Linked DNA regions of Homo sapiens. The protein of the gene in region 1 interacts with the protein of each later gene in a pairwise test. Each region holds a gene or a part of one and is shown on either strand. Other genes may lie near its edges.

Evidence for each region.
Region 2: the proteins of EMX2 (region 1) and OTUD6A interact in binary tests that used the Homo sapiens proteins (3 or more experiments, as listed by UniProt).

Annotation. Positions count from the first base shown.
Region 1 is NC_000010.11:117,536,286-117,545,745, reverse strand, and holds the start of EMX2 (homeobox protein EMX2), read right to left. Parts: upstream 3,001-9,460; 5' UTR 2,479-3,000; coding exon 2,073-2,478; intron 1,441-2,072; exon of another isoform or gene 1,370-1,440; intron 1,181-1,369; exon of another isoform or gene 678-1,180; intron 115-677; coding exon 1-114. UniProt on the Homo sapiens protein: Transcription factor, which in cooperation with EMX1, acts to generate the boundary between the roof and archipallium in the developing brain. May function in combination with OTX1/2 to specify cell fates in the developing central nervous system.
Region 2 is NC_000023.11:70,057,084-70,065,526, reverse strand, and holds OTUD6A (OTU domain-containing protein 6A), read right to left. Parts: upstream 3,071-8,443; 5' UTR 3,003-3,070; coding exon 2,136-3,002; 3' UTR 1,348-2,135; downstream 1-1,347.

The DNA.
Region 1 (9,460 bases):
CAAAGGCGTGTTCCAGCCTTAGAAGCTGGGACGGGGAGAAGGCGGTTCGGATCCGCTTGGGCTTTCGGGCCAGCGCGTTGTGCAAAAGGAAACTCTCGGGGCTAGTGTCGTTCCCTGCGGGGAGCACAGCAGAAATCCCATTAGGGGGGGCTGCTCTGACCGGAGCCGCGCACTTCTCCCGAGCCGGGCTGGCCCGGCACCGTGCTCAGGGCCTTCGCATAGCCGCGCCGCTCGACCTGCGGGGGCCGGTGGTCCTCCCAAGGGCTCACGAAGGGAACGCCTGCTCAGCTGCCCGGCCCGGAACGCCGGGTCTCCACCGGTGCGGCACCCAACCAGCCGCTGTCGCAGAGGAGCCAGTCCCCAGGCTCCTGACCTCGGCCGGCTCCGCAGCCGCCCTGGCGCCGCGGGCCTCGCCACCTCCTCGCCGGGCGCTGGAGGCAGGGGAGGGAGCCGCAGAGCCTGGCCAGGGGATTGGCGCCCACAACCCGAAGAAACTACTTTCTCTTCTTTCTAACCTCTCGGGGAACTTTGACCCACGGTGGAAAGGCGGCGGGCTGCTCTCCAGAGTTTTCATGGAGATTTATTTTTAAATTATTTGTTTTATTGCCCCTCCGGAAAAGTATAGAGGCGGGGCGAGTCGTTGAAGCCCGATCGGGACAGAAATCTGGCCGGCGGGTGTGCTTGGCTACAGCCGCTGCTGCCTCTCGCGAACTGGGCTCCGGGGCTCCCGGCTCCCGAGAACTAGAAGAGAAACGCGAGCGAAGGGATCGAAACCCGGGGGGTTACCGACTTGCAGACACCGCCAGGACAGTCTGTAACGCAGGAAGATCCCAGCGGCTCCGGGTCTGGTGAGGGGACCATAAGCATGACTGATAGCGAATGAGGAAGGGCAGCCCTAAACTTTTCAAGCAAAGCCTCAGAGTTTTGGGTTCACTCATTAGCATAGGAAATCGATTCACCGAAAACCCAAACAAAGAAAAACAAGCCGACAGTCCAGGCAGGATGCAGGCAAATCCAGTTCGGGATTAAGGGTAAAAGGCTTTTTGGGTTTTTTTTCCTTTGGTTTGATTTTTTAAAATATGGGGAGGGGGGTGACATCTACCCGATTCTAGGCTCCGGCAGGAACGCAATGGGTTAATGAATGGACAAGCCGCGGAGTATTGATCGGCTGCCGCCGGAGGTAGGTCTTTTACTGACTCCAATCCGTAAACTAATTACTCCTTTTTCTGAAGTTTTAACTCTCCTCCTCCCACCCCGTACCCAGAGAAAAACAAACAAATAAAAAATATCGCAAGAAATGAAAACACACGAACAGATATTTCCCTCTAAGACAGTTTCCTGACCAGGTTCTTTTTTTTTTTTTTTAAAGAAAGAAAGAAAAACAAAAACCAGACCGAACCTGCCTTCCCGCTGTGGCTGCTCGGCGCCCCAATTAAGCAGGTCGCGGCGAGAGCGCCAAGCCCTGGAGCTTTCCTCCCGCACGGGTTCCCGCCCCTCCCCAGGCCTCCGAAAAGCAGGAAAGAAAAAACAAATCCCATACTTTTCTCCCGGGGCGCGAGGATCCTCTCGCCTCCAGAAGAGGGTGGAAGACTAAGAAGCCGCGGGTCTGGACTGAAGGGGCGCAAAGTGGGTGGTGAACAGGGTCGAACGCAGTCGAAAGCAAGCCTGGCGGCCGAGTCCTGTCCGCGCCCCTCGGAGCCAGGACGGTTGGGGGCATTGCCGAGGGTACCAGGAGCCTGGGGATCCCGCGGGCTCTGGGCTCCGCGGCGCCGGGCACGCACAGCCCAGCCTGCTCTGATTCGAGCGCACTGGGGGACAACTTCTCCGTTCGCACCCCTTCCCAAAGGGTCAAGCGGCCCGCAGGCCATCACTCCAAACCAGTCGTAGCTTCGGAGACTGGGGATCGACACCACGCCCGGCCCCGCGCCGCCTAGTTTCCCAACAGGGCGCGCTGGCCCGCGAGCCGGAGGAACCTCCGCCCAGGCCTTGCCAAGCGCCCACCCGGAGCAGGCCGGGGGCAGTGAAGGATGCGGCGGGAGCGGCGCGCTGCAGTTCCGCGACGTGGCACGTACCTTGGAAGCGATGACCCAGATATCGGTAGCGGTGGATGAGCCAGGGGTAGAAGGTGGACGGATCCCGCTGCTGCGAGGCGAATAGGGGGTGTGGCGAGTGCGAGGAGGGTAGGGGGTGGGCGGCCAGGGCGTGCGGCGGCGGCACCGGGTGCACTGGCACGGCGGGGTTGGGCGGGTGCGAGACCGCCTCGGCGAACACCAAGTCCGGGTTGGAGTAGACGCCCCTACCGGCGGCGGCGGCGGCGGCCGAGTGGAAGCCGTTGAGGAACGGATTTATGGGGCTGGAGTTAGCGTAGCTGAGTGCCGCGGGACGGATGGGGTCCTCGGAGCGCGAGGCGGGCAGGGGACTGTCCTTGGCCACCAGCGACTCGATGGTGAAGCAGCGCTTGGGCGCCGGCTGGAACATGCTGCGCCGAGGAGCGGGCGCCCTGGGCTCCCAGCTCCTGGCGACCGCCGCACGCTGCCTCCGCCGCCCGCTGCCCGCGGCGAGGACGGACGAGAATTGGGGACTCGTTTGTTTGGGGTGGGGGTGGGGGTGGGGGGAAGGAAAGGAAGAAAGAAAGGAAAGGAAAGGAAAAAGGAAAGGAGGGGGGAGGGAGAGGGAGAGGCAAAGCCGAGGATCCCGAGAATCTTGCACCAAACGCGCCCAACCTGAAGAGAGGGGGGAAAATCCTTCCAGAAGAATTTGCAGGCGTGGATTGGGGTAATTTTTTTTCTTTTTTTTTCTTTTTTTTTCTTTTTTTTTTTTTTTTTTTTTTTTGGCGAGATGGCGTGGGGGGATCGGAGTTAGAGGCAGGGAGGAGAAGGGGGGAAAGTTCTCGGGGGAGGCAAAAAAAAAAAAAAGTTTTTTCTCCTCTGCAAAAGGCGGGCAGGGCGCCCTAAGTCCAAGGACAATCCATGGAAGTGTTCGCTTCTTCACAAGTTGTGCAAACGATTTGTTAGTTCATGAGCCTAATTAGTGCGGGGATCACATAAACAGCTTCCTCCGAAGCCTGGTAAATGGCTTGATGATTGGTCGCTATTACTCGCCCTGAGGTGGAAGGGGGGAGACTCTTTAAAGTGCGTCAGAGGGAGGTGAGCGCCTGGGAACCCGGAGGCCTGGATCCGGGCCGAGAGTGGAACGGAGTCGGCGCCGCCGCCTCGGCTGAGCCTTCTGCCGCCCACCGGGCGGCCGGGCTTCTCCGCGCCTTCGCCCCTCGCTCCCAGCTCACTCGCTCCTGCGGCGCCCGCTGCGGCTTCTCCTCCTCCTTCGCCTCCTCCTCTTCCTCCAGTTTCTTCTTCTCCTCCTCCTCCTCTTCTTCCTCCTCCTCCTCTTCTTCCTCCTCCTCTTTCCCCACCTACTCCCCCTCAGCCACCGCCTCCTCCTCCACCAGCACCACTCCCTCCGGGGCACCCCGGTCCCTGCAGAGTCCCTGGCCGGCGCCGCCTCCGCTGCGGCCCCCTGAATCCCGAGCCTGCCTCGCCCAAGCTGGTAGGACAGAAGGACAGACAGATTCCTCTAGCCTAGCGCTCCGCCGCTGCTGCCTTACGCGGCCCCGCGTCGGGAGAACTGGGATCGCCCCAAGAGCACCGCGAGGGTAAGCGGGCAGGGGCTGGTTCCCGGGCTAAAGGCGCCGTTCGGTTATACCAATCCCCACACTTAGCAAAACTCCCAGCGGTTTCCTAGGCCAGGAGGGATCCTGGAGTGAGGGGTACGGGGTCCTCCCACCCCATCAACCACGCTTAGCCTCGAGGTCCCAGGGTCGGTGCGTTCGCGATTCTTGACCCGGCTCGTTCGTTTGCGAGTTGAGACCGGGAGCTGCCGACCCCGCCGGAGCAGTGGGCTTCCAACTCTCTCCCTCTCTCGCCCCACGGTCTCTAGCGTTTTCTGTCTGGGAGGGTGCTCACCTCCTTCCCCAAAACAATTCCTTCTGGAATATCTGGGACCGGCAGTCCAAGGTCAGGGGAGAGCCCGATATGGTGCTACTGTACTATTAAGGTTCCGTCGTAATTATTTTTGTCAGTGTGGTCAATGTTATTATTATTATAGATGATATTATTTTATTATTATTATTTCTATTATTATTATTATGCCATCTGTTGTCCCGGGGTTGGTGGGGGGGTGGTGGTTGCTGTGCAAACCCAGTGCAACTAACGACTACGGATCGCATCTCCGGTCCCGGGCCGTGTCCGCATTTTCGAGCTCGCCTTCGGTTTTGGGATGATTTTAGGACCGAGTTCCCTCGTCCCCATTGGCTCGCGCGGCGGCATAATTATGATCACATCCCCAGGCTGCTGGCGCTGCTCTCTGTTTATTGGTGGTTAAAGATCTATTATCTATTCATCAGCCGCCTCTTTTTTCCTTTTTTTCCTTTTGCCAATTACATTCTTCTAAAGTGAAGTACCAGCAGGTATTTTGCACGTTTACAATTAATGATAAAAAAAAATTCTAGCGTCGTTTAAAACTATTACTCCCAGGCCCCTGTCATTTCTCCTAAGAACGCAGAATTGCCTGTGTTTGGTGACTAGGTTGCCGTGAAACCTGGGAAGCCGATGGCAATGGGAGGAGAAGAGTGAAGTCCACCGTGAGCCAGGCTGCACTGCCACCAGATGCATAGTTGAGGGGACAGGTCTCAGGACGAGCTACCTGCTTCCTCCCTTGGTTTCATCTGGTGTATATTTATGTTTGTGTCAATTACTCCTTTATTCCAGATATAATGTTGTGTTGGGGCAAGTGTCCAAAAACCTCTTTTGGGAAACCAGGCAAGAGAGGAGTTGGGAGCAGTGTTTTCCGGGGTTGTCAGGGCACCAGACAGATTCGTGAGGAACTGGCAGAGATCATCTTTGTTGCCCCCACCCCACACCTTCCCAGGGAACACACATACACATCTTCACAGATGAGACAGGTGTGCGCCTCAGCTTTGCCCTCACAGTGGGAGACACCTGCCTTTCCCTTAGGCTTCGAAGTTCTGGGCTGGGGTCCTAGCCCAGTATTGTCCCTCTGTCAGTTCCAGGTGGCTTTGCTTTCTCCTCCTCCCCTTTTTCCAGGCCCAAAGATTCTGGGCTTTGGATCCAGCCCTTGGGGTAGGGGTGCACTTAAAGATGCACCTCCCTTGGGCCTGGACCACTGTCCCCCAAAATATTGTCTACAGTTTGGAAATCCCTCTCTCAATTAGGCTGTGAGGTTACAGGCCTCTCCTCTAACCCCAGCTAGGCCAGCAGGGAGCCTGAAGACATGGCAGAGGGGGGAGGTCTTTTGGCTGTGCCCAGCCAGTAAGCTTAGGGTGGAGCTAGAGGTCCGCCCTCAGGTTTTTGAGGCTGGAAACAAACACTCAGCTTAGGCAGACTGTGCATCCTGAATCCTGGCAAGCAGGAGAGTGCACCTTTCATGCAAACTTCAGAAGGAGGACTGGAGGGCCAGATTCTGGCAGTGCCCTCAGGCCAGACCCTCCAAACTCAGCCTGAGACTCAGAGGTTGCAAACTGGAGCCACTGAAACTCCACCCTTAGTGATCTTGGATGGGGGCATAAAAGTCATTGACCTTTAGGGCAACAGGTATCCAGTCTGTCTGGGAGATTGGGTGAGACCCAGATGGTTTGTGATGTATAAGGGTGATGGGTGCCTTCCCTCTTTTAAAACTTGCAGCCCTGGGCGCTAAGGTGCAATCATTATTCCCTTAACCAGGACAGTGTTGGGCTGGAGATGGGACCCCTCAGCCTTCTGCCCCAGGCAGGGACATCTGGCTGCAGTAGAGGGGTAGAGTGCTCCACAGTCCCACTTCAGTCAGTCGGCATCCTCTGCAGGCTACCTGCCTTTTATAAACTGCCCTTCTGTGGCCAGGTTTGCCCCAGGGGCTCTAGCTAGCCAACACGTAGGCAGGGGTAAAGGGGCAGCAGGATCTGAGATCTGGTGTCCCCCTTCCTGAAGGAACCAGGATATGCTAGTTCCTCTGCTCCAAGTGCTGCTAGACCCGAGCTGCACTCCAGCCCCTTGAAGGAGAAGCAGGTTTCCAGTGAGTCGGGCAGTTCAGAACCCCAGAAGCTGGGTAATCTATGCTAATTCATGCATGGGTAATCTATGCTAATTCCCGGGGCCAGAAGGGCCCGGGAAGGTTCGCGGGGTCTGGCCCCGATGTGCAGGGAAATTAACTAGGATAGTAACTCATTAACCAGACTGGCCAGTGGAGTCGTGCCAGGGCACTGGGCACTGTGGTCTGGACTGGACCCTAAGCTCCTAGATGGCGCAGCTGCCCTGCCACTCAACTTTACTTGTGGATTTAGGCCTTGCAGAATACAGCCACCTTTGTTCCTTAGCTGCCCAAGGAGTGGGTGTTTGGTTAAGTAGCCCTGCGTGGAGTGGGAGATGTGGGGATTTCTGAGGCTCCAGCTTAGAGCAAGGGGCTTCCTCCCTCTGCCCCATGTGTGCCCCAAGCCACTGCTGCCTCTTGGGCTCTGTAGACTGAGGAATCTACCTTTCCAGGTAGCTGGACTAGCAGACACATTCAAACGTTCTAATTCCGAATCTGTCACTGAATGACCTTGGGCAACACAGAAACCTCCCCACCTCATTTTGTCATATGTAAAAATACAGCCAATGCTGTCTGGGAGGCAGTGGGGAGTAGCAGTGGGCTTGTTTTGGAGAAAGATAGAACTATCCTACTTCCTGATTGTGGTGGTATTTACATGACTCTATGTGTTTTTCAAAACTCACAGAACCATATACTACAAAGGGTGAGTTTTACTATATGTAATTATACTTTAATACACCTGCCCCCATCCCCCAAGATGAGAGACTTGCATTTACAGCTTAACTGTGTGACCTTGGGCAAGTTACCTAACTTCTCTGTGCCTCGGTTTTCTCTTCTCTGAAATGGGAATAAATAATATAGTACCTTTGCTCTGGGTTTGTTCAATGAGATAAACAAAGTAAAGTGCTTAGACAGTGTCTGGCACATAATGAACTACAATAAAAGTTTGCTCCTGTCCTTGATGCTGCTATTACATACCCACCTCCAAGGCTTGTTACTGGGTTTCAGAGTCTGTGAACAATATAGCTGTACAAACATCAGCTAATGCTGACACTCCTGCCACACTCCTCCGTGCTCCCCCAAAAGCTGAGAGCTTTTCTAGGGAGATTTTGGGGTGAGCAAGGCCTGGAGTCCTGGCTCCTTGGTTGGTGTCAAAGGGCGGAGACTCCTGGGGATCTCTGATAAGCATCTGCTAGGAGTTTCCTGCAAGGTGCCCCCGGGCTTCAAAGGAGCAAAGGGCAGTGCTTCACTATAGCTGCGCTCCGTGCTAGGCCTGTGAGGTACCTGGGGTGGGTGCATGGCCTCCTGCAACTGAGAATAGGTGTGTGGGAGCTGTCTGGGGTCACCACCTGTGTGACTTTCACCTTCTTAAGCCACGGTTGACTCATCTGTGAAAAGGAAATAGCGATGTGTTAACGGTTGTTGAGAGAGTGAGTGAGCTCATATTTAGCACACTGTTAGCGTTCATCACATTTTAGTTATTGCTAGGCCATGGCCTTGTGCCGTCGAAGCTACCCGCTGCACTCTGCCACGTCCTGGTCCCTGATCGCCGAGGTTCTGGTCCTCACGTTGAACCAGAATGCTGAGCCCGCCCTGTGCTCCCGCGGCTCGCCGCGGACCGCACCGACGCCCGTGAAGGGCGAGCCCTTTCCCGGCCCGAGGCGCGAGAATGGTGTCCCGAGTTGGAAAGGCCTCGGGGGCGTTAAGAATTCCTCCAACCCACTGAGATCCCCAGTCACGCCGGCCTCTCCGAACGCGCAGGGTGGCGGTGAGAAAACGAAAAGTATAATTAATGCCCTAAAAACATTTTTTAAAAATTATTACGACAAATCCCTTTCTGGCGTCTTCCCCAGAGGCCTCTCGCCAGGCGGGCGCGGCGACCCGGGGCCCCGATCGGCGTGAGCGCAGCGGCGCCTAGTGGCGAGGGCCGGGCGCGGGCGCGGTACCCACCGCGCCCCCGAGCCCGAGGGCGGGGGAGCGCTGGGGTCGCGCCACACTGCCAAAGTCTCGCCTAGGCCGTCATCCAGGCCAGTGGAGGGGTTAAAGGAGGCTCACTGGCTACGGAGGAGCCCGGATGGCTTGGAAGTGCGTCCCTCCTGCCTCCATCAGCTCCAGCTCTTGGCTTGAGAGTTCGCCACCCACGCTGGAATTCCAGCTCCAGTAGGCTTCCTTCCGAAGGGGGCGCAGAGGTGGGCTGGAGTGGGACAGGTTCTGCTCTAAGAAGGACTAGGAAGCCGTGATCACCTGTGCAGCCACAATTCCATGCCTGAGGTCCCATATTTCGCGGCCCAACCCAGGTGGTTCAGAGAACAGGCCTTGGACGGCCTGCGCGGGCCCTGCCTGGGGTGGAGTAGGAAGAGCTGGGGTCCCGGGGTGCGACTCTCTCAGATCCGCGCCCCCTCGCGGCTGGCTGAAGACGCCCGACACAGGGGGTCCTTGGTTTTGGCAGGGGTGGCGATTGATTACCACACACTCCTAGCAGCGCACATTGACTAGCCCATTCCTCTCGGAGCGCGCGGACCCCATCCATCCCGGGGCAGCCTGGCTCCTCCGGTGATGTGGGGCCGTGGAATCCGCTTGGGCTTCACTGGAAACCCGTGTCATAGCAAGGCGGCCTGGGACCGGCGCCCTCAGCATAACTGCTTGGAGCTCCGAGCCCTTGCGGCAGGGTTTTGACCCTGGCCCTGGGCTCCGCGGGTGGCTGCAGGGGCGCTGTCCTCCTCTGGACATCCGCGCGAACCTCTGCGTCTCCGGAGATCTATCCGTTTTGAGACCCAATGTTTCAGTGACGCATGGAGCCACTGGCAGGACCCCACCGTCGGGTTTTATCTCCTTCATCACGTTGAAACTCGTCACTCCCTCACCACACACACGCTGTCTCGATTCATTATTGAAAGCAAGGAAACAGAACCAAAGGGGTTTGCAGTTTCTTTCTCCCTCAGCTGCCTTCAAATGAAAGCCTAGGACCGAGCAAGGACTGGGAGGGACAGACAGACGTACACACAGACGGTGGTGCAGGAGCTAGGGAAGAAGTACACTCTCTAGTTCGGGCGCCAGCCCGGGATAGGGATGAAGACAGTTGCGTCTCCCTTGCACTCTCTCGGGATGGAGGGTGGGTGGGAGCGTGGCAAGTCCTTCCCATCGCCCCCAAAGCTACATCTCTATGAGCCCACCAGAGCGTGCACCGGCTCCTGAGTTCCCAGAGGACCAGCATGGGGAGCGAAGCGGGGCGCACCTTCCACGCCTCTGCAGCGCTTTCTGGCTTTTCGTGTTTGAGGCTCTGCTCTCTGCCACTGATAGCCCGGCCGGCCTTTTAACTTGGAGTCTGGTCCTCGCCCGACAATGTAAGGCGCTACTTGGGTTTGTCAGCGTCCATCTAGGA
Region 2 (8,443 bases), on another chromosome or scaffold:
CCCTCAGCCAGGACTTCTTTCCTAGCCTGTGCCCCCGCTACCCAGCTGGGCCTCTTTGTCCATGAAGGTCCCCTACCCTAGCCAGGCCTCTTCTTTTAGCTTGTCACCCCCTTCCCTGACCCTATGCAGCCCACTGAAGTAGAGCACCTTTCCCATTTCTAGAGCCCTTCAGCAGTCTTTGCCCCTGTCCCCAGTCAGCAACCACCACCCCGCCACCCGCAACAGGCCTATGCTCCCTAACCCTCCAGGATTCCTTTGCTTAAGTAGATCCTGGGATATAAACTCTATATGAAGTTAGCTACACAAAAACAGAGAAGCAGGTATTTTTTAAATGGTTTTTATTTTTGAACAAACTACATGTTTAAAAACTTTCAAAAACATATATATTTTATCTTAGAGCATTTGGAATGTAGAAAGAATTTCCAAAATTAATCTCACTGAATTACAGAAAGTAAAGATTAAAATTTTCATAAGTTGTTGACTGTAAATCATTTCATTTTATATTCTTTTGGAAAATTCAAGGATATTAACAAGTCTCAAATAACAAAAGTATATTGTTCACTTTTGATGTAACAAAATAGAATAAAACTTTAATATTTTAAAGAATCTTTTTAGATATTTCTGTATCTCTAAGAAATAAGGAAAGTTGTTACATTCATATCTTTCACACTTCATACCAGATGATATAACAAGGTCAATCAAGTACTTGAATAAATTCATACACCTTTATATCTCTAAGAATAAAGGAAACTTACTCGATTCAGATCTTCACCCCTTAGAGTAAGTAAATTACCTATCAATGTGTCTCTTTTTTCTTTATACCAGTTGTAAAGATAATGAAACGTATCAACTATTTGAATAAAGTCCTATCTCTTCCTACCTTTAGTAAAGGAAATTAAGTTCAGATCTTTCACATCTTAGAGTAAACCTTATCTAGCCTATCAGTTTATCTAAATTTACTTTATCTATTTAACAGATTTACCTTACATGTTTTAACAAATGCTGTTATTTAGAATTAGCAAACATGGGAGAAACTAAAATTAATTAGGAACCACACAAGTTTTGATGAAAAGAAAACAAAACAAAGTACTAGCGGATCTCTTGTTCATAACTTGAGACATCTCCTGAGTAGTCTAGCTTAAGTAAATAGCAAACCATGGCAATCTTTCCCCCCAAAACTCAGCAAAAGGCCTTCACAAGGCATTTTGATCACATAAACTCCAATTTTGTCTAAGTAATCCAAGACATTCATAGGAAAACCTGAAGACTCCCCGAGCTAGTCTACTAGATTTATTTTTCCCAGAACACATGAAACTTAACATTTCCTTTTTTTCTTTTTTTTTTTTTGGAGACGGAGTCTCGCTGTCTTCCATGCTGGAGTGCAGTAGTACGATCCCGGCCCACTGCAGCCTCCGCCTCCCGGGTTCAGTTGATTCTCCTGCCTCAGCACCCCAAGTAGCTAGGATTACAGGCCCCCGCCAACCTGCCTGGCTAATTTTTCATTTTTTTGAGACGGAGTCTCACTGTCTTCCACGCTGGAGTGCAAAGGCACGATCTCGGCTCACTGCAACCTCCGCTTCCCGTCAAGCGATTCTCCTGCCTTAGCCTCCCGAGTATCTGGGACTACAGGTGCCTGCCACCACGCCCGGCTAATTTTTGTATTTTTTGTAGAGGTGGGGTTTCACCATGTTGGCCAGGCTGGTCTCGAACTCCTGACCTCGTGATCCGCCCGCCTCGGCCTCCCAAAGTGCTGGGATTACAGGCGTGAGCCACCGCGCCCGGCCAATATTTCCATTTTTGTGGTGAAGTTATACGCAACATGACCAAATCTTAGTTGGTGAGGGAGGTAAAAGACCCTTAAGGGCAAGAAGAGGTTAGAACTTTCAAATTTATGCCCCTCTGGTGGTGCAATGCAGAGATTTCCCTCATATTTCCGGGGAATTTCCCTCGAATTTCGTTTCCCACCCTGTGAAAGCAGCAAGGTTAGGAAAGCGGGGGCGGGGCGGGGGCGGGTAGTTTTGATTAAAAGGAAGGAAAAGAAAAACAGAGAAAAGCAAAAGGGGAAAATAAACTGAGCCTACTGAGGAGATGCGGCGACGGCGACAGTTTCCCGGGGCTGCTCAGCGCCTTGGGGCCTACAGGAGACGCGGGAGCACGCCCCCGGCGGCGCCGGCCTCGAGCGGTGTCACGGAGTTGTAGTGCTCGCCGAGGCTGTAGGCATAGCGCAGGTAGACCAGGATGATCGGCTTCTTGACGTACTCCTCCCCGATGATCAAGGTGGGCGAGTCGGCCTGGATCACCTCGATGGGGGTCTTCAGGACGTGCGACAGGGCCCTCAGCTCCAGCTGGCCTCCCCATGCCGTGGTGCGCACGATGTTGTCGCAGTAGATCATGAAGTCGTCGTAGCCGAAGGAGTCGCTGGTCTCGGGGTTGCTGAAGAAGGGCAGGAACTCGTCGACGTGCTTCTTCATGTAGCTGGCGGTGCGGCAGCGCAGCATCTCCACAGACACGCTGAACACCAGCTGGTCTTGGATGGCGCGGTACATGCAGTGGCCGTCGGCCGGGATCGCTTTCATCTCCAGACCCCTGGCTCCCAGGATGGCGGCGAGCTTCTCCTCCTCCTCGCGCTTGAAGCCGGCCAGGTGCTCCGACATCTCAGCCTGGAAGATGCTCTCCTGGCGCTCCCTCTCCTCGGACTCCATTCTTTCTCTCTTTCTGTGGGCTTTGGAGGAGCGGGGAGGCCGGTTTTCCAGATTCATCTTGGCCAGGTCTTCGACGACAGATTCAATGCTACTGTCGTCTTGGAACTTCTCCAGCTCCTGCCGGTGCTTCTGAGCCATCTCGGCCTCCATGCGGGCCACGTCTTGGAGCAACTGCTTTCTTTTCGTCTTGTCGGTCTTGGGGACCGAGTTTTTTAAGCTCCGGATCTGGGCCTGCAGCTCCTGCCTCTCGCGTTGGTGGCGGCGCAGTATGCGCTGCTGTTCACTCTTCGGATCATCCATGATGTTGAATGGCAAGCGGGAGTTGAAATTTGCTGGCAGTTCAAGTACCGAACAGACCAGAAGTCCTCAGCCTGTCCTAACGGTCGCTCTCTTTCACCTCACCGGCTCTAACCGCCGCTCTAGGCTCACCTCAGCCTCCGCTTCCCCTCCCCCATTCGCATTCTTCTCTGCCTTTGGTCACTGTGTCTCCATGGCCACGCCCCCGCAAGTGCTAGGCCACTTGCTGGGCCACCCGCAAATGCCCAGTGCTAGGATTGGCTGTTGGGAGACCGGAAGTATGAGCCCATTGGACCCCACAGCAAAGGTTTTTGGCGGGATTCAAATATGGCCTTCCTGCAATGTGTGTGGCAGTTGGGCCTGTAGAGTCTTTCGCTGATTGAGAGCCGACTTCATTTCCAAGTCTGCACACAATGCAGGCAGTAGCCATGCCTGACAGCCACATGACAGATACTACACCGCTGAATGTGCTCTAACCCTGGACTTGGCATTGCCCCTACTGTTGAGGAAGCAGTGCGTTTTTCTCCAGTCTTTCAGGTCCCTTCACCAGGGAACCATTAACTTGTGCATCAGAACAAGGACATTTCCTTACATTCCTGCAAACACAGTCCTTTCAGTTTACTCTTTTTTTGAGGGGGGGGCGCGGGGAACGGAGTCTCGCTCTGTCGCCCAGGCTGGAGTGCAATGGTGCAATCTCAGCTCACTGCAACCTCTGCCTCCCAGGTCCAAGCGATTCTCCTGCCTCAGCCTCCCGGGTAGCCGGGACTACAGGCGCCTGCCACCACGCCCGGCTAATTTTTGTATTTTTAGTAGAGACGAGGTTTCGCCGTGTTGGCCAGGCTGGTCTTGGAACTCCTGACCTCAGGTGATTTACTCGCCTCGGCCTCCCAAAGTGCTGGCATGAGCCACTGTGCCCAGTCACAAGTTTTTATTTTAGCCATTTTGATAAGTGTGAAGTTCCCTGATGGCTAATGATGTTCCTTTTTTCATGTGCTCATTTGTCATCTATGCCATATCCTTTTCAGTAAAATGTTTATGTCATTTGCCTATTTTCTCTCTCTTTTTTTTGGGGGGGGTGGAGTCTAGCTCTGTCACCGAGGGTGGAATGCAGTGGCGTGATCATGGCTCATTGCAGCCTCAAACTCCTGGGCTCAGGCTCAGGTGATCCTCCTGCCTCAACATCCTGAGTAGCTGGGACTACAGGCACCACCATACTTGGCTAATTTTGGGGAATTTTTTTTTTTTTTTTTTTTTTGCCAGATGCGGTGGCTCACGCCTGTAATCCCAGCACTTTGGGAGGCCAAGGTGGGAGGATGTCTTGAGGTCAGGAGTTCCAGACCAGCCTGGGCAACATGGTGAAGCCCTAACTCTACTAGAAATACAAAAATTAGCCAGGTGTGGTGGTGTGTGCCTGTAGTCCCAACTACTCCTGGGGGCTGAGGTGGGAGGATAGCTTGAGCCTGGGAAGCAGAAGTTGTAGTGAGCCAAGATAGCGGCACTGCACTCCAGTCTGGGCTCAAGTGGTCCTCCACCTCTGCCTTCCAAAGTGCTGGGATTACAGATGTGAGACACCATGCTCAGCCCTTCATTTGCCTATTTTCTTTCTCTCTCTCTCACTCTCTTTCTTCCTCTCTCTCTCTCTCTTACTCTCTTTCTTCTTCCTTCCTTGGTTTCCTTCCTTCCTTTTTTTTTCTTTTTTTTTTTGAGACGGAGTCTTGCTCTGTCACCCAGGCTGGAGTGCAGTGGCATGATCTCGGCTCACTGCAGCCTCCAGCTTCTGGGTTCAAGCAAGTCTCATGTCTCAGCCTCCTGAGTAGCTGGGACTACAGGCGCACACCACCACACCCGGATACTTTTTGTATTTTTAGTAGAGACAGGGTTTCACCATGTTGGCCAGGCTGGTCTTGAACTCCTGAGTTCAAGCGATCCCCCTGCCTTGGCCTCTCAAAGTGCCGGGATGACTACACACACCACCATATCCAGCTAACTTTTTTTTTTTTTTTTTTTTTTTTACTTTTTGTAGAAACGGGGCCTCACTATGTTGCTCAGGCTGGTTTCGAACTCCTGGGCTCAAGCGAGCCTCTCACCTCAGCCTCCCAAAATGCTGAGATTACAGGCGTGAGCCACCGCGCCTGGCCAGGATTTTTGTAGGAATCGTGTTCAAGCTGAATATCAATTTGGGGAGAATTGACATCTTTACTATGTTGAGTCTTCCAGTCCTTGAACACCTGGGTATGTATCTCCATTTACGTAGATCTTCATTGATTTCTTTCAGTGACACTGCATGATTTTCAGCATATAAATCCTGTGCATATTTTGTTAGATTTACACTTAAGCATTTCTCTTTTTTTGAGTGATTGTAAATGGTATTGTATTTTTATAATGTGAACATTTACAATGTTCACATGGTCATTGCTAGTATATAAAAATACAATTGACTTTTTTTGTTTATCTTGTGTTCTGTGACCTTGCTTAACTAGCTAATTATTTCTAGGAGGTTTTTTCCCCCCTTGATTCCTTGGAATTTTCTATGTAGGCAATCATGTCATCTGTGAATAGGGACAGTTTTATTTCATCCTTTCCAGTAAGTATGTCTTTTATTTCCTTTTCTTGCCTTATAGTGCTGATTAGAACTTCCAGCACTATGTTGGATAAGAGTGGCAAGGGCAGACATCCTTGTTTTGATCTTGATTTTAGGAGGAAAAGAATTTCATCTTTCACTGATAAGTATGATGTTAGCTGTAGGATTTTGTAAATGTTATTTATCTAGTTGAGGCCTTTCCCATCTATTCCTATTTTTCTGAGAGTTTTTGACATGAATGGGTATTAAATGTTGTCAATGTTTTTTCTGTATTGATATGCCAATATGATTTTTCTTCTATAACCTATTAATATGATAGACTATAGTGATTGATTTTTAAGTATTAAGCTAGTCTTGCATTTCAGAAATCAACCTGATTTGGTCATAGTTTATCATTATTTTTATATGTTGAGGAATTCTTTTGGTAATTTAAAAAAGGATTAAAAAAAATCTATGTTCATGAGAGGTATTGGTCTGCAGTTTTCTTTTTTGGTACTGTTTTGTTTAGTTTTAGTGTCAGGGTAAATACTAACTTCACAAGAAGAGGAGGGAAGTGTTCCTTCCTCTTCTATTTTTTTGGAAAGAGATTGTGTAAAATCAGTAATAATTCTTCTTTAAACATTTGATAGGATTCTCCAGTGAAACCATCAGGGCCAAGAGATCACTTTCTTGGGAGTTTTAAAATTAAAAAAAAGTTTTCCTTAATAGGACTAATCAAATTATATATTTCATATTGAGTGAATTTTGGTAGCTTGTGTTTTTTGAGGAATTGGTCCATTTATTCTGAGTAGTCAAATTTATGTGTGCAGAATTATTTGTAGTATTCCATTTTTATTGTTTGATGTTGGGAGGATTTATAGTGGTATTCCCTGCTTTATTGGTAATTTGTGTTTCCTCTTTTGTTCTTTGTCAGTCTTGCTAAAGATTTGTCAATTTTATTGATCTTTTCAAAGAACTAGCATGTTGTCTTATTGATTTTCCCCATTGATTTTCTGTTTTAGATTTCATTAGTTTATGCTATTTATTATATTCTTCCTTCTGCTTGCTTTGGGTTTAGTTTGCTCTTCTTTTGCTAGGTTCTTGAGGTGGGAGCTTGAATAATTGCTTTCAGACTTTTTCTCTTTTTCCAAAGTATACGCTTAGTGATATAAACTTCCTTCTCAGTACTACTTTAACTGGTTCTCCCATGTTTTGATATGTTTAGTTTTCATTATCCTTCAGTTCAATGTACTTTTTGGTTTTCCTTGAGACTTTTTGGCCCATGGATTATTTACAAGTGAGTTATTAGCTTCCAAGTGTTTGTAGGTTTTCCTGTTATCTATTAATGATTTCTACTTTGATTCTGATATGGTTTGGGTCTGTGTCCCTGCCCAAACCTCATGTTGAATTGTAATACCCTCTGTTGGAGGCGGGGCCTGTGGGAGGTGATTGGATCATGGGGGGCAGATTTCTCATGAGTGGTTTAGCACCATCCTCTTGGTACTGTCCTTGAGATTGTGAGTGAGTTCCTGTGAAATCTAGTTGTTCAAAAGTGTGTGGCACCTCCCCTCATCTCTTTCTTGCTCCTTCCTCCATGATTGGAAGTGTCCTGAGATCTCCCTAAAAAGCAGAAGCTGCTATGCTTCCTGTACAGCCATCAGAACCATGAGCCAATTAAACCTCTTTTCTCTTTTGTTTATAACTTACCCAATCTCAGGTATTTTTCCTTTTTTTTTCTTTTTGAGACAGTCTCGCTCTGTCACCCAGGCTAGAGTGCAATGGCGTGATCTCGGCTCACTGCAACCTCTGCGTCCTGGCTTCAAGTGATTCTCCTGCCTCAGCCTCTAGCAGCTAATTTTTGTATTTTTAGTAGAGATAGGTTTTCGCCATGTTGGCCAGGCTGGTCTTGAGCTCCTGACCTCAAGTAATCCACCCGCCTCCGCCTCCCAAGGTGCTGGGATTACAGGCATGAGCTACCGCTCCTGGCCCAGCCGGTATTTCTTTATATATAGCTATGCAAGAATAGCCTAACACAGATTCCTTTGTGGTTAGAGAACACATTTGTATATGATTTCAATTCATTTAAATTTGTTAGGGTTTGTTTAGTTTATGGCCCAGAGTATGGCCTATCTTAATATATGTTCCATGGGCACTTTAAAGAATTCATGTTTTGCTCCTGTTGGGTGGAGTGCTCTAAAAATGTTGTTTAGATCCCAGTGGTTCATGATGTTGTTCAATTCTTTTATATCTTGCTGATTTTCTGTCTAATTCTTATGTTTATTGTTGAGAGAGGAGTTTTGAAGTCTCTGACTGTAATTGTAGCCTTTTCTATTTCTCCTTTCAGCTCTATCAGGCTTAGCTTTTCATATTTTGCACCTCTGTTGCAAATCCTACACATTTTAGGATCTTTGTATCTTCTTGGTATATCCATCCTTTGATCATTATTGGAAGTCTAGTCTCCCCACTCAGTCTTTGCTGGTGGGGGTGGGGCCACAGTTGTTTTTTTCTCTGGTTATGGCTGGCATAGAGTGATTATTGTCTAAAACTTTTCTGTCTTGCTAGGCTAATTCATTCCTAATCCCTTGGCTGGAGAAAACAGGCTTTTATAGGGACTCTTTTTGTCTATGGCTGTTAGTGTATTTTTGGTTGTTGGCTTCTTTAACTTCAAGTCTAAGATATATGAATCAAAAAGAAAATTCATGTCATTCCTCCTGTCCTGAAGACCCTATGTGGTCTGCCTTCTTTCCACTTTTTGGAGTCTTGTGTTTGTTTTGTATATGATATCCAGAGTTTTTAGTTGTAATAGCAAGAGGAATAGGGCAAAGGATGTCTATTCTATCTTCTCCTATCTTATTTGAAATAAATGGAACTATTTCACACTCTC